Homo sapiens: one gene and its partner. The protein of the gene in region 1 purifies or fractionates together with the protein of each later gene. This does not show direct contact. Each region holds a gene or a part of one and is shown on either strand. Other genes may lie near its edges.

Evidence for each region.
Region 2: the proteins of KDM4D (region 1) and GPATCH11 purify together in Homo sapiens (affinity purification with mass spectrometry; one large-scale study listed by BioGRID and IntAct). This does not show direct contact.

What each region holds. Positions count from the first base shown.
Region 1 is NC_000011.10:94,980,130-94,983,961, forward strand, and holds part of KDM4D (lysine-specific demethylase 4D), read left to right. Parts: intron 1-3,832. UniProt on the Homo sapiens protein: Histone demethylase that specifically demethylates 'Lys-9' of histone H3, thereby playing a central role in histone code. Does not demethylate histone H3 'Lys-4', H3 'Lys-27', H3 'Lys-36' nor H4 'Lys-20'.
Region 2 is NC_000002.12:37,091,018-37,094,849, reverse strand, and holds part of GPATCH11 (G patch domain-containing protein 11), read right to left. Parts: intron 2,935-3,832; coding exon 2,814-2,934; intron 2,710-2,813; coding exon of another isoform or gene 2,686-2,709; coding exon 2,595-2,685; intron 769-2,594; coding exon 655-768; intron 199-654; exon of another isoform or gene 90-198; intron 1-89.

The DNA of each region.
Region 1 (3,832 bases):
CTCTTTTTGGAACCACTTTTAGAGTGGTTCAATTATCATTCTTTTCCTTTTTGCTTAATGCATGGTATTTCTTGATTATGAATGTCCCTACTTGGGAAGTCATAATGATATTCTCAGGTATTATCTTCTAAAGGTTTCATAGCTGCACATGAAATTCATTTTTGTGCGTGGCATGCTGGAGAAGGGGCCTTGAAATCCGATGGAGCAGATATTCTTACCTTGTCCCACTTTTATAAGAGTGGCTTTGCTATTCTTGGCCCTTTGGACTTTACTATAAAATTCAGGAGCCAATTGTCAAGTTCCACAAAAATACTTTTGGAATTTTAATTGTGATAATATTTAATTTACAGATTAAGAAAACATTCTTAAAAATGTAATGACATTTTTACAATACTAAGTCTTCAAATCTATTAACAGGTTATATTTTTCCATTTGTTTAGGATGTCTTTAGTTTATATTAATATGCTTCTCTAAGTACATTCATATTGTTGTCTTCATAGAAATTTTGCAAATTTTTGTTAGCATTAGTCTTGTTACTTAATGCTTAATGCTATTATAAATGGCGTCTTCCTTAAATTTTGGTTGTCTCATTGTTGCTGGTGTGTAGAAATATCATTGATTTTTATATGTAGCTATTTTAAATTCAGAGAACTTGCTAAGCTCTCTTATTAATTCAAAGGGTCTATTCAGAGATCTTTCAGATTTTGTCACATGTACAATCATGTCATCTGCCAATAGTGACAGCTTTGTTTCTTCCTTTTCTGTTTTCCTTCTTTTTTCCTTGCCTTCTTATGTTGGTTAGGACTTCCAAGATAATGTTGAATAAAAATGCTGATAGCAAGCATCCTTGTCTTTTTCCTGATCTGCAAGGGAAAACGTATAACTTTCATTATTAAGTATGATTTGGCTGAAGGTTTTGGATAGATGCACTTCATTAAGATTTTTGCCTACTATTTTTAATTTGCTGAAAGAATGATGAATTGATGAATTTTATCAAATACTTTCTCTGCATCTAATGAGATTCTCTTTAGTTTGTTAATATGTGCTATTACACTATTATTTTTTAAAGTTTCATCCTTTCATTACTGGAATAAACCCATCTAGGTCATGATGTATATATTGCTGGAATCAATTTGCTCAGATTTCAGTTAGGATTTTTCCATCTATGTTCATAAGCGAGATTGACCTATTTTCTTTTCTCATAGTATCCTTGTTGGGGATTCGTACCATAAAATGAATTGGGAAGTATTCTTTCTTTTTCTATTCTCTGAGAAAATTTATCTAAGATTGGAATATCTTTCTTGAATGTTGACTAAAATTTCTTGGTGTAGCCATCTGGGCCTCGAGTATATTTTCTGGGAAGAGTTTTACCTACTGCGTCAGTGTCCTTGAGGGTTATGGATATATTTATTGTTCTGTTTATTCTTTTGTCAGTATCACTGTTATATTTTTCTAAAAATGTATTTACTTCATTGAAATGTTAAACTGTATTGGCATAAAGTTGTTTATACTTCTTTGTTGTCTCTTTTATGTCTGCAGCATCTGTAGTGATGACTTCTTTATCTTTGTTGATATTGGTTATTTGTGCCTTCTATTTTTGTTCTTCCTCATTTTCACCAGTCTTTTAAATTTTATTAGACTTTTTTAAAAAAGCCCAACTTTTGGTTTTGTTCATCATATTTTATATTGGCTTTTTATTTCATCAGTTTCTGGTCTCTTATTATTTCTCTTCTTTTTCTTTCTTTGCTGTTACTTTTTTCTGACTTCCTCAGATGGGTGCTTAGCTCATTTAGTTTTTTTAACCTTTTTCCTTTTCTTAAATATTTATTTAAATTTATAAATTTCCCTTTTAATGCTATTTACCTGCATCCTACAAGATTTGAAATGTAGTATTTTCATTTAGTTCAAAATATTTTCTAATTTCCATTTTTTATTTTCTCATTAAAAATTTATTTAGAAATATACTTTTTATTTTATAAATTTGGGAATTTTTTAGTTATCATTTTGATATTACTAACTTCATTGTTTGTGGTCAAATAACATATTCTGACTGTTCTCAACCGTTTGACATTTGTTAAAGCTTGTTTTATGGCCACAGTTATGGTTAATTTTGTAAATTTTTTATAGAACTTGGAAAAATATATATTCTGCAGCTCGGCAGAACTGAATTTTATATGACTATTGCTTTTTAACTGCTTGATCAGTAGGGTCCAGGTTTATGCCTGTCATCCTTGGGTCTCTGTTATTCTCAAAAGTGTCTCAGCTTAGATGGTAAATGATAGGATATAATTAATGTCAAAGTTTAGAGCCACTCTTATTAAAATCTTAGATGAGTATAGAATTTCTACCAACTCAGTCAACATTCAGCATTTTGCTAGAGATCATATCTAGTTACTTAAGACTTCCCTATTTCTAAAAAAAAAAAAAAAAGAGACATGACTATTAAAAAAAGAAGAGATATAATTTTTATGATTTTTTCCTAGAAAATATTATCTACGTGGAAAATTCTAGAATTAATGGCCAAGCTAATAGTACTAATAGGAAATAAGAGGTACAAGGTTTGAAAAGGGATGTAAGATCAATAAATAATAAGAAAACTTAATAGAAAAAAATTTCCATGTACAGTACACTCAAAAAATTATAAAGTTCCTAAGGTTTTATCTAAGAAAACAGATTCATTATCTTTTTGATGCAAATCTGAAGCTTCATTGATATACATGCAACAAGATCTGAATAAATGTATAAATATACCAGTTAATTGGTGGGAATGATCAATGCAGGAGCTATGAAAATACACCTCTAATTTTCCTTTAATTTCAATGCATTCCCAATTTAAATTAACAGTATTTGACAGAACCTGACAGATTTATTCTAAAATGAATACTGAAGTTTTACTCTATAAATATACCCAAGATAATTTTGAAAAAAGTTGAATAAGTACATGGAGACTTGCCTTACCAATTATCCTAAGTATAAAGCTTTAGTAATTAAAACAATCTAACATTGGCATAGAAATGTACAAATAAATAAATGGACCAGATGAAGAGTTTAGAAAGACATCTATCCTTACATTGTAACTTAGCATATGTGAGAAAAGGATTCCAACTGAATGGGGAAAATGGTGGCAAACAACTGGATTTCTTAAAAAAAAAAAAAAGTTCTGTTTCTTACAATAACACACAGTATTCTAAATAGGCAAAACAAATAAAAGTGAAAAGCAAAGAAAACAATGACAAGAAAATATGATCTTTTTGACCCCCAAAGAATACATGGATTACTTAAATAGTACACAAAGGCACAAATCATAATGGAAAAGATCAATAAATTTGACTACATTTAATTTTTTCAAATATCAAAAAAACATAAACAGTAAATGGAGGTGGTGTGCTGAGATAAGTTATTTGCAACAATACAATAGACATAAAATTATCCCAAACATTTAAAGAACTTTTAAAAATCACTAGAAAAAGAAAGCAATTTAACTGGAAAAAATCGGCAAAAGGTATAACTGGTAATTCAGAAAACCGAAACCCACAAAAGAAATAAATCAGTGAAAAATTACTTGACTTCACCAGTAAACAAGTCACACAATAATAACAACAACAACAACAACTACAATAATAAAATAAAAGGAGATAAATCATTTTACCAAATTGCCAACAACTGAAAAGTTGACATTATCAAATGCACCTGGAGGTGTGGAGAAACAGAAACTCCTATTAGTACATAGGTTTATTAGGATAGCCACTAGGTAGAGCAATTTGACATTGCCTAGTAAAATTAAAATGTTGTTTCTTTATCATTTAGAAATGATAATTCAAAGTATCTACCC
Region 2 (3,832 bases), on another chromosome or scaffold:
CCTACCTCAGCCTCCTGAGTAGCTAGGATTATTGGGTGCCCCACACCTGGCTAATTTTTGTATTTTTAGTAGAGACTAAAATACACTACCATGTTGGCCAGGCTGGTCTTAAACTCCTGACCTCAAGTGATCCACCAGTTTTGGTCTCCCAAAGTGTTTGGATTACAGGTGTGAGCCACCATGCCCGGCCTCCATTTTCTTTTGATTGTGTTTTTTTGTTGTTTATAAGTAGGAGAAAAAAGTACACATTAGAATGACTTGTAGAAGTTTTGCAGGAAATAAGGTATAAATTAAAATAATTTACATTTGTTGCTAATTCATCATCCAAACTGAAGCTGAGATGAGAGGACAAATGGAAGCTAAAGGGAAAAATTATATGTAAGTTTTGATTTGGGGTTAGTAAAGTAATCCTGCAATGCAGTACCTCTCAACCAGGGGTTATTTTTCCCCTCGGGGACATTTAGCAATGTCTGGAGAGGGTTTTGGTTGTCATAAGCAAAAGTGCAACTGGTATCTGGTGGGCAGGGGCCAGAGATGCTGCTAAACATCTTGCAATGCACAGGACAGCTCTCCACAACAACGGATTACCACAACTCAAAGTGCTAATGTTGCCAAGGCTGAGACACCCTATGAAGGAAATGGTGCAAAGCATACGCTTAAATCTTCACTCTTATATTCATCTTCATCCTGTTCTTTTTCTTCTTCATCTTCTTCAGTCTCCTCTTCAAGCCTCAACCAGTACCATGCTTCCCTGGGAACCTGAATATTCTGAAAATGCAGAAGTAGTCTCAATTAAACATACTAAACATAAGAGCATGACAAATATGTTCATGTCAACATGAATTCATTCTTTCAATACGTATTCACTGAGTGTGGCTTTAAGAGTAAAAACACTGGCCGGGCACGGTGGCTCACGCCTGCAATCCCAGCACTTTGGGAGGGAGAGGTGGGTGGATCACGAGGTCAAGAGATCAAGATCATCCTGACCAACATGGTGAAACCCCATCTCTACTAAAAATACAAAAATTAGCTGGGCGTGGTAGTGCATGCCTGTCGTCCCAGCTACTCAGGAGGCCGAGGCAGGAGAATTGCTTGAACCCAGGAGGTGGAGGTTGCAGTGAGCCAAAATCACGCCACTGTACTCTAGCCTGGTGACAGAGTGAGACTCCATCTCAAAAAAAAAGTGAAAACATTGTACCATGAACTATGGGGATGCAAAGTCCAATTCTTTAGAATTGTGCAGTTGTCTTTAAGTTCCTTCTGACAGTCTAGCAGGAAAGATAGGCTATGGGTACAAAATAATACATATATGCTACAAAATCATAAGTGCCATGAAATACATTCAAAGTAAAGTAATATGTAAGAACAGGAAAGTGAGAGATTGCTTCCAGTAATCTATATATAAGGGAAATTTTACAAAGCTTTTTGAGACTTCAAATGAAGTCATTTTATTTTCAGAGTACTTGAACCACTAAGATAAAAGCAAAGACAGAATTTATTTACTTATTTATTTTTTTTGTAGAGCTGGGGACTTGCTATGTTGTCCAGGCTGGTCACAAACTCCTGGACTCAAGCAATCCTGCAGCCTCGTCCTCTCAAAGTGCTGAGATTACAGACATGAGCCACCATGCCCAGCCAGAGACAGAATTTTTTAAAAACTATTCAAATTTGAACTAGATAGCATTCCACCTTGATTTTATTTTTGAGACAGGGTCTCACTCTGTCACCCAGGCTGGAGTGCAGTGGCATGAACATAGCTCAATGCAACCTCAACCTTCTGGGCTCAAGTGATTCTCCCACTTCAGCCTCCTGAGTAGATAGGACTACAGGTGTGTGCCACCACATGCAGCTAATTTTAAGATGTTTTGTAGAGATGGAGTCTTGAAATGTTATCCAGGCTGGTCTCGAACTCCTGGGCTGAAATAATCATCCTGCCTTTGCCTCCCAAAGTGCTAGGATTACAGGATTGAGCCATCATGCCTGGCCCACTCTGATTTTAATAGTTAGACATATATTAGATACTGAATAGGAACTGAAAATAGGCTATTCTTGTTAATCAAATATTATAAAGAACAGAATTTCTGCACATAATAGTCATAACTGATATTCAAATAAGCAGAGAACAATTAAATGTAAAATTTTATTTAACCCTTTTTGTTTTACTATAGTTAGTATAAAACTATAAAACTATAGTTACTATAAAACCCTGGGTTTTATAGTAACCCAGACAACTCAGGTTACTATAGTAAATAATAAGCCATTTTTATATCAATTGTCACAGATCAGAAGTGCACATTACATGAAAGCTTTAATGAGTAGATAAACCGGGCTTGGAGTTCTTAGTTTTATATATATATATAATATATATATTATATATATAAATACATAAAATATATATAATATATAAGACATATGTAAAAAATATATAAATATATATGATACATATAAATATATGTAATACATATATAAACATATAATACATATATAAATATATATAATACATATATAAAATATATATATATATAATAAATAAACGGGAAATCACAGGGGGTGCCAAAACACTTTACTAAACTGAAAGCTGGTAAAAGGCTTACTTTCTGGACATCCAGTTGTTGACAGGCTCGCTGGCTTCTTCTGAGATCTCCTTCTAGCTTCATTTCATCTTGCTTATTTTTAAGTCGCATTCTAATTGAAAGAAAAAATTGTAAACTAAAGGTCTACGTTATCTTTAACCATTTTATATGCCCAAGTACCAGAGAACATACCACAATAAAGAGGAAATAGAACCAAAACCAGCTCAAAAATAGTTTTACCGAAACTGTTCTGCAGCTTTTTCTTCAGCTTGGTTTTTCATGTGAATCTTTTTTCTGTAGCTTTCCAATTTTTCCTCTGCTTTCCGTTTTAATGATGCCTCATGACCAATGCCACTTTTCCCTATTCAAACAGAAAATTCTGATGAGAAACATCCTGACTTTGTGCTTCAAAACAAGACGATTTAACTATGTACAAATTAAATGCAATTCTCATTTGAGTACTATCACTCACAAATCATTTGAGTACACTAATAGTAGAAAACACTAGGGTTTTTTTTAAGCCCAAAACATAATCTGATTTTTACAAAGATTGTTAATCTCATCTTATAGTAATATTATAAACAATTTTTCAAATCAGAAAAACAGTATTAGCTGTTATAGTTTTATTTAAATATGAATAAAATATATCTTTTTCTCTTGAATTCATCCAAGTATTAAGCAAAACATTTGGTAGATAAATCTGTCTCAGAACACTTTTATTTTATTTTATTTTTATAGGGACAGGCTGGTATGTAGTGGCACAATCATGGCTCACTGTAACCTCGAACTTGTGGGCTCCAGGAATCGTCCCGCCTCAGCCTCCTGAATAGCAAGGACTACAGGTGCGTGCCACTACACCCGGTTAATTTTTTAAATTTTTTGCAGAGATGAGGTCTTGCTATGTTGCCCAGGCTGGTCTCAAATTCCTGGCTGCTTTTTTTTTTTTTTCCTTGAGATGGAATTTCACTCTTGTTGCCCAGGCTGGAGTGCAATGGCGCAATCTTAGCTCACTGCAATCTCTGCCTCCTGGGTTCAAGCGATTCTCCTGCCTCAGCCTCCCAAGTAGCTGGGATTACAGGCATGCACCACCATGCCCGGCTAATTCTGTATTTTTAGTAGAGATGGGGTTTCTCCATGTTGGTCAGGCTGGTCTTGAACTCCCAACCTCAGGTGATCTGCCTGCCTCGGCCACCCAAAGTGCTGGGATTACAGGTGTGAGCCACCACGCCCGGCCAACTCTTGGCTTTAAGCAATCCTTC